Regions from separate parts of the Homo sapiens genome. Here region 2 is linked to region 1. The links come from fine-mapping of genetic effects on gene expression. A gene starts in region 1. The other region holds a variant in brackets. All regions are shown on one strand. Distances are between the middles of the regions.

The links. PIP is the estimated chance that this variant, and not a neighbour inherited with it, causes the effect. A credible set is the group of variants that fine-mapping cannot tell apart.
Region 2: its variant is the best candidate, but not a certain one, in a credible set for the expression of SPRYD7 in lung (TOPMed, PIP 0.81).

What each region holds. Positions count from the first base shown.
Region 1 is chr13:49,934,592-49,938,986 of GRCh38, reverse strand. It overlaps SPRYD7 (SPRY domain containing 7), which reads left to right and starts at 2,647. Exons shown (of 5, transcript NM_020456.4): 1 at 2,647-2,857. The coding sequence starts at 2,752. RefSeq lists enhancers at 1,667-1,716, 2,587-2,836 and a silencer at 2,297-2,546.
Region 2 is chr13:50,101,173-50,105,567 of GRCh38, reverse strand. The region is part of intron 1 of DLEU2 (deleted in lymphocytic leukemia 2); the gene reads left to right. The region is part of intron 2 of DLEU1 (deleted in lymphocytic leukemia 1); the gene reads right to left. Among named protein-coding and RNA genes, the nearest start is that of DLEU1, 21 kb to the right of the region's middle. The variant A/T (reference allele first, on the strand shown) is at 2,029.

The DNA of each region.
Region 1 (4,395 bases):
TGACTGACTTGAATGGCCTAAATGTTTATTACATATATAATACATGTACTTCTTTTAATAATATTTCTGAACAAAATTTTTACTTTATAACAACTAATTCTATTATATTTTGTCTATACATGCATTATGGCAGCTTATATCCAATGTGGAGATAAATGAAACACACAAAAAAGGGCAAATCTGCATTTTGAACTGAGAGCATGTTTAAGAGGATTATAGCATTAATTATAAGAGAAAGAATTTGAGAGGCAGTGTTAAAGCAAACTAAATATGGCCTGAGAAGGACTCTGTACTTCTGTATTTGAGTCCTTGTGTACGAACTGTAACCTAGGTTAATAGGCAGACAAGCTTGAAAACCTAATTTAGGAGTATGCACCTGTAACAATAGCTGAGTCTTGGCCAATCCCAGCGGCCATACTTCAACCAGTCATACACTGCTGATTGTTCAAACTGTGTTCAAATAAGGCAAACGCCCCCCTGTAACCAATGCAGCTGTTTCTGTATCTCACTGCTGATTTCTGTACGTCACTTCCCTCTTTTTGTCTAAAAATTTGTTCTGACCACGAGGCATCCCTGGAGTCTCTCTGAATCTGCTGTGATTCTGGGGGCTGCCCAGTCATTCACTGCTCAGTTTAACTCCTTTAAATTTAGTTCAGCTGAAGTTTTTCTTCTAACAGGAATCAGACTGGTAAGCCTTGAATCCTACCTGTTTATCTCCTGCTCACCTGAAGTTGTAAAGTTTAGTACCTCTAGGCCTATTTCTTCACCTATAAAATGGGGACAATACTGACCTTGAAATCTTGAAATAATTCAACTAGATATATATATATGAACGGTAGAAAAATTTTGTCTCTCCAATATTCTGTTAAAATTCTCACCCCCTGCCCCGCCCCCAGCACTTCCCTGGGGTTAAAAAAAAAAAAAAAAAAAAAAATCAAAGCACTTAATTCCCAGCATAACGATGAAGGTTTGTCATAAAAGAAAATTTCTTGTGTGAAATGATTACCAAGAAAGTACTGCATACGCAATGGGGGAAAAGACCAACCCTCAATCAGTTTAATAATCACCTTGGTTATTAAATTCTATGGTAACTTAATTTCAACGTACAAAACTTTCCCTTAGTATTGTAATGAAAACACCATTTATAGAAAGAGAACCAGGAACCTGAAAAATTCCCCTCATTGCATAGATAGAAATCCTCCTTAAAAAACATTTATAACTCGGGTCACTAAAAGTTACGTATGGGAAATCATTATTTAAGTAGTGGGCATTTTATGTCCAGTTTCCCAGGACTTGATGATCCATCCCTAGGGAAGCCTTCAGGATGAAACTGATCTGGGAACAGAGGTTTGAGCTAGGTTAATTCTAGAGGTCGTCCCAGACATTTCCAGATGCCAAGCGGTATCTTTTTTTTTTTTTTTTTTTTTTTGGAGACAGAGTCTCTGTTGCCCAGGCTGGAGGGCAGTGGCGCGATCTAGGCTCACTGTAACCTCCGCCTCCCGGGTTTAAGCGATTCTCGTGCCACAACCTCCTGAGTGGCTGGGATTACAGGCGTGCACCACCGCACCCAGCTAATTTTTGTATTTTTAGTAGAGACGGGGTTTCACCATGTTGGCCATCCTGGTCTTGAACTCCTGACCTCAGGTGATCCGCCCACCTCAGCCTCCCAAAGTGCTGGGATTACAGGCGTGAGCCACTGCACCCGGCCTGAAGATGTAAAATCTACCACGGAAGGATGATCTAAGTGGGGAAGGAGATGACAGGTGACAGCCTCCCGTGTGGAAGCAGAAAGTAGCGGACGGTAGGAGCCGAAGGCTTCCCTCGGGACCCAGCAGACTTCCCGCAGCCTCCTGGGTTCCCGTCACATTCCTCGGAACCCTCAGTGCACCAGACAGGGGGAGCTTGGAAGAGGCAGGTCAAGAATCGCCCCCGACCCCGCCCCAGCGTTCTGCTCCCAGGGCGGCCTCCCACGCGCCCCGGACCACGCAGCCCGATGGGCCAGGTAGGGCGCGTCTCTGCACCGAAAATGCATTAGGGCCCGCGTGAGCCCCGGTGAACATCCACAGTGCAGTCACTAACAGGCATTACTCCTGGGGCCCACGTGAGTCTATTTAGCATGTGAGGGAAACCAGCCACGGCAGGGAGACTGGGGCTCTCCGTGGTGGCAAAGCCTGCTCAACCTGGGCCCGCGGAGGGAAAACTCGGAAGTCATTTCCATTAGCTCCCCTTCCCCCAAACTGATTCGCTTCTGTCAATCCATCCCTAGAAATAATGTCGAGGCCGGGACCAAGGGGTGCTGCGTTTTAAAAATTCTGCATAGGAAAACCCCTGGAAGTACTGAGGGACAGACAGCCCCACTCACCTGTCAGCCCTGGGGGCGTGCGCGAAACCGCCCAAGGAGAAAAAACCAGCTGGTGCGCAGGCGCACGCCGTCCCACATCCGCAGGCCCGCAACGCCACGCCCCCTGCCACGCCTCCGCGCGCCACTAGCCCCACCCGTCTCCCCGGCCCAGCCCGGCCGCTCGCCCTGTCCGGTCTCTCCCCGGCCCCTTGATTCTCCGCGTCTTCCTCGCAGGCCAGCCTAAGCTCAGCCTGCATTGCGCCCTCCCGGCCTAGGGTGTCGCTGTACCGGCCTCCGAGCTCCACATAGACAAGTCCGGACCTCGGGCGGGGGCAGGAGACGGAGCTGAGCGGCGGGGGGCAGTGTCGCCTCGGTCTAGGGACGGCGGCGGAGTCGGTGGTCCCTGCGCGATGGCCACCTCGGTGTTGTGCTGCCTGCGGTGCTGCAGAGACGGGGGGACTGGCCACATCCCTCTGAAGGAGATGCCGGCCGTGCAGCTGGACACGCAGCACATGGGTAAGGGCCCTCCCTTCCCCAGACCCAACGGCTCACGGGGGCCGGGCGCGGCGGGCAGGGGGACCTTCAGGGTCAGAGGGTCCCCACGCTGCCCCGCCGCGCCGGCGACGCTGCGCCGACACCATTTCGTCTCGCAGATCTCTCCAGAAGCCGGCGGACTCCACCTGGGCCCGGTTCTGTGTTCAAGGCTGCGCAGCCCTCTCTGTGTCTGTCATCGCGAATGGGCGTGTGGACCTCCCATTTTCACAGGAATCTCGGAGGCTTCCTCCGGAGATGTCACACGTCCTCGGGCGAGGGGGCGGAGAGTGCCCTTCTGGCGCGCCCCAGTGAAAACCTACACATTTTCAGAATGCTTCTAGGTCCGGTCTTGCTCCTCCTCCTGCCCTGACTGTCGGTCCTGTCTCTTGAGCCCCATCATTTATAGGTTGAATCCTATATTATTGGAAGTAATTTTCCTCTCACCTCCTAAAGTCGAAACAAGGCAGACTGCAGAAGTCTGAAGTCGCACCTCAGGTCAGAACTTGCCATTTCAACTAAAACCTCCCATTGCCCGACTCCTTAGTCATTGTGAGAGGTACTGTAATTTCATCTGACTGGCCTCTTCCCAACAGGTCTAACTGTTGAAAAATAAAATAGCACTTTGCTCCTTTGCATCTTGCTTTATCCTTTTAATTCCAAATCCATATAATTTATCTAACATTCTTCCTCTCCCATCATAGCCTCTTTCACCACCTTATTATTTCTTAGACTTTTCCCAGGTAGTTTCATGCTTCTGGAATGTGGTTCTAGAAGGAGAGATTTCCCAATATAATTATTTCAGTTAGAGTACTGTCTTTTTGTGGATTATTTTATTCTAACTGTACTTCTGCACTTTTGATTTTTTACACGTTTCTGATTGTTTAAAGGACAGTGCATTGAAATAAAAAGGCACTTCTTAATATTTATGATAAAACTCTCTCGCCCAGTTTCCTTATAATTCTGGAAACACTCTGCCCACTGTATTTTTGTATAACACATACTAAATGTGATAACTATATAATCACCTTGTATGTGTGTATTTACTTTTAATTCTCAGATCTCCCAAATGTAGTACAGAACCTTAATACATAAGTAATCTTTAAATTATTTTTTATCCATCATTATTTATAGACGATGGAGTTCAAATTCTATAGTTTTCCTCAGAAAATATTTCCATTTCAGTTACTCATTTACTGAAGTGATATTTATTAAGCAATTATCAGGTGGCAGGCATTGTTATAAGTGCTGAGAATATAGTGAAGGACAACCATACATAATTCCTGGAACTCATGATCAACTGCAGCACTTCTTCCTATCTTTACTGTTAGACTCTTGAATTACTGCAGTCTCCTCTTTGGAGCATTCCTTTTCTCTGTCATCTGTTTCCTCTAGGAAGAGCTGGTCAGATATACTCATTCCACTGTGTTTTATTTCTCCAAAGCTGTCCAGCAACTGTCAGCTACTAACTGGATGAAATAGAGTAATGTCATCTCCAAATTTTCTAACTGCATGGAAGTTTT
Region 2 (4,395 bases), 170 kb before region 1:
CTCAAGTGATTCTCCTGCCTCAGTCTCCCAAGTAGCTGGGATTACAGGCGCCTGCCACCACGCCCGGCTAATTTTTGTACTTTTAGTAGAGATGGGGTTTCGCTATGTTGAGACTGGTCTCAAACTCCTGACCTCAGGTGATCCACCTGTCTCAGTCTCCCAAAGTGCTGGGATTACAGGCGTGAGTCACTGCGCCCAGCCAGCAAATCTTATGTAGAATTTTTAAGGAGTGGTGAATTTGGATTGCCAGAGAGAAAAGATAACCATTCATTCATTCATCAAAGATTTATTGAGTGCTTACTGTGTGCCAGGCACTGTTCTAAAGACACAGCAGCAAACAAAACTGTTATAGAACAGGATAAGGCAGGTCATCTCCCAGATACGACACTTTGATAGGAACACAAAATACAAATAGGAGAGTAGAAAGAGATGAAATACAAAGAGAAAGAGCTGATATTGGGCTTATATTAATATTGAAAGGCCTTACATGCTAGATATTCTAAATGGGAGAAACATGCTGGAAAGATACTTGGCATGAATGAACTTATGTCCCTATGTTCAGAACAGACTGCTTTCCCTTCTCTGTTGGTTGGCTCTTCTAGCCTCCTAGGAACTTTTATAATCACCAGTATGATCCAATATAAATACTGCACATATGAAGGTTCCCAGTTGAGGAGTTTGGAAGCAAAAAGGGAAAGAATGGCTGGCAAAGGCTTCAATCTTCTGTCTCCTTTTATCTTCCCAATGGCTAGTAGAAAATACTATCATCAATCTCTTCCTTGCAACAATCTCCCATTTGATATTTGTCTGCATTGTGACTCAATTCCTGAAGGTTCTGTTCTTCATTCCTTTCTGGTAGAATCACTGAAAAGAAAGGAGATTACATTTACATTTGCTTTCTAGTCAATCAGGTTTTTCTTATTCGCCCAGCAACACTTCTCTACAGAGAGTTTGATGAAAAGTATTTTATGTTTTATATAGGCTAGTGGAGACATGGGTATGGCAGGATGGGAGGGTAGGGAAAATATCAAGAGGCTATAGTCTTGATATATAGTACTCTTGATATAGTACAAGCTTGATATTTAATAGCTTGAATTAAATGGGCAATTTTAAAAATGAAAAGAAACATATCTGCAGTGCCTTACAAAGAAGTAACTATAAGAAGTAACAAGTTTAGTGATCATTTACCTATAGGGAAGAAATAAAATAAGGAAATGAACCTAAGATTGTAAACTTAAAGGTCCAAAAACTTGTGTTGTCACCAACAACAGCCAAGAAATTTGGAAGAAATACCTTGAAGGAAAAAAATAATGTCAGATCTAAGTGGGATATTACTAGAAGACAGAGGAGAAGCTTTCTTGATAAGCTATCTGGCCTGTTGATGTACATATGAAAGTCATCATCATACAGAAATTGAGTCCAGGCGCAGTGGCTCATGCCTGTAATCCCAGCACTTTGGGAGGTCTTGAGCTCAGGAGTTCGAGACCAGCCTGGGCAACATGGCAAGACCCCATCAATACAAAAAATTTTAAAAAGTTAGCCAGGCATGGTGACACACCCTTGTAGTCCCAGCTACTCTGGAGGCTTAGGCGGGAGGATCACCTGAGCCCAGGAGTTGGAGGTTGAAGTAAGCCTGCACTCCAGCCTAGGCAACACAACAAGACCCTGTTTCGTTAAAATAAATAAATAAAAGAAAGAAAAATTGATTGACATTCTATGGACTAATGAGGGAATGGAATGAAGATCAAATGGTTGTATATGAACTTTGATTGCAAGATAAGCTACCAATTACTGACAAAAAAAATTGAGTAACATACTGCATGATTCCACATATATCAGTTCTAGAAAATGCAAACTGGTCTCTAGTGACAGAAAACAGGCCAGTGGTTTCCTGGGGAGAGAGGTAAGAGGAGGCAAGGATTATAAAGAGGCAAGGGGAACTCTTAGGAATGATGGCTATCATCAGTTGTATTTCTTCCTTTCTAACTTGAATGCGATTTATTTCTTTTTCTTGCCTGATTGCCCTGG[A/T]CAGAACCTCTGATGTTGAATGAAAGTGGTCAGAGCAGATATCTTTGTATTATTCTTTATCTTACGGGGAAAGGGAAAGCATGCAGTTTTTCATCATTATGCATAAGGCTATCTGTAGGATTTTTATAGATGTCCTTTATCTGGTTGAGAAAGTACCCTTCTATTCCTAGTTTGCTAACAGGTTTGGTTTTTTTTTTGTTTTTTTTGTTTTTTTTGTTTTTGGTTTTTTAAAATCAGGAACAAATATACGATTTTGTCAGATTTTTTGGGTGTCTATTGAAATGATCAGATTTTCTTTTTTAGCTTAATATAGTGACTTACAATGATTAATTTTTTAATTTAAAGCAATGACATATTTTTGGGATAAACCTCATCCAGTAATATTAACTTTCTTATATTTTGTTGGATTTGACTTGTTAAAGTTTCGTTGAGAATTATTACATCCATGTTCAAGAGGGAAACTGGGCTATAGTTTTCTTTTCTTGTAATGGCTTTGTGTGGTTTAGGTATCAGGGTAATGCTGGCCCCCAAAAATAAACTGAGACGTATTCCTTCCTCTTCAGTTTTCTGGAAGATTTGTATATAATTGGTATACACAGTGTTATCCCTAAGTGTCTGGAAGAATCCACTAGTGTTTCTTTGTGAGAATATTTTTAACTATTAATTTTTTAAAAATAGATACATAGCTTTGGAAGTTATCTATTTCTTTTTCTTTTTTTTTTCTTTTTTTTCTTTTTTTTTTCTTTTTTTTCTTTTTTTTTTTTTTTTTGAGACAGGGTCTCACTCTTTCACCCAGGCTGGAATGCAGTGGCATAATCAGGGCTCAATCTCGCAAGCTCAAGCGATCCTCCCGCCTTAGCCCCCCAAGTAGCTGGGACTACAGTCATGCACCACCACACCCAGCTAAATTTTTTTGTATTTTTAGTAGAGATGGGGTTTCTTCACATTGCCCAGGCTGGTCTCGAACTCCTGGACTTAAGTGATCTGCCCACCTCAAACTCCCAAAATGCTGGGATTACAGGTGTGAGCCACTGCACCTGGCTGTACTTCTTTTTGAGTAAGCTTTGGTAGTTATGTCTTTCAAGGAATTTGACCATTTCATCTAAGTTGTTGAATTTTATTTGCTTAAGGTTTTTCATAATATTCCCTTGCTATTCTTTAAGTATCTGTAGAATTTGTCATATTTCACCTCTCATTCCTGATATTGGTAATATGTGTCTTCTCTCTTTTTTTTTTTTTTTTCCTGATCAGCGTGGCAAAAGATTTATCAATTTTATTTATCTCAAAGAACCAGGGTTTGGTTTCATTAATACTCTCAATTTATTTTGTTTTCCATTTCATTTATTTCTACTTTGATCTTTATTATTTCTTTTGTTTCTTTGTGTTTAATTTGTTCTTCTTTTCTAATTTCTTAAGGTGGAAGCTCATTAACTTGAGACTTTTTATATTTTCTAATATAAGCATTTTGCTTATGTCTTCCTACATACTGCTTTAGTGGCATGCCACAAAATTTGATATGCTTTGTTTTCATTTTCATTCAGCTCAAAATGCCTTCTAATTTTACTGCACTCCTATTTTAATCAATGGGTTATTAGAAGGTTATTTAGTAGCATGTTATTTTGTTTCCAAACATTTGGGGATTTTCCAGACAGCTTTCTGTTATTGATTTCTAATTTTAATTCTACTGTAGTCAGAAGACATACTCTGCATTATCTGAATCCTTTAAAATTTACTGAGACATGTTTTATGGCCTAGAACAGGGGCAGGCAAACTTCTCTAAAGGGTCAGACAGTAAATATTTTAAACTCTGTGGGCCACATATGATCTTTGTCACATATTTTCTTTTCTTCTTAAAGAAATCTTTCAAAATGTAAAAACCATTTTTAGTTCATGGACTATACAAAAACAGACTACATTTGGCCTCAGGGCCATAGTTTGATAACCTCTGGCCTAGAATATGATCGATTTGGGTAAATGTTTCATGTATACTTTGAAGAGAATATATATTCTATTACAGGTTGAGTATCCCTTATCCAAAATGCTTGGGACCAGAAGTGTTTCAGATTTCAAAGTTTTTTGGATTTTCTGAACATTTATATATATATATATAATAAGAGATCCTGGGAATAGGACCCAACGTATTGGGTCATGTTGGTGCTCAAAAAATTTTGGATTTTGGAGCATTTTGTATTTCAGATTAGGGATGCTCAACCTGTACTGTTAATTTGGTTACAGTGTTGCTTGAGTTTACTATATCCTTGTAAGTTTCTACTTGTTTTAGCAATCATTTAAAGAGGGGTATTGAAATCTCTAACTATGGATTTGTCTGTTTTTCCTTGCACTTCTGTCAGTTTTTGATTTACATAT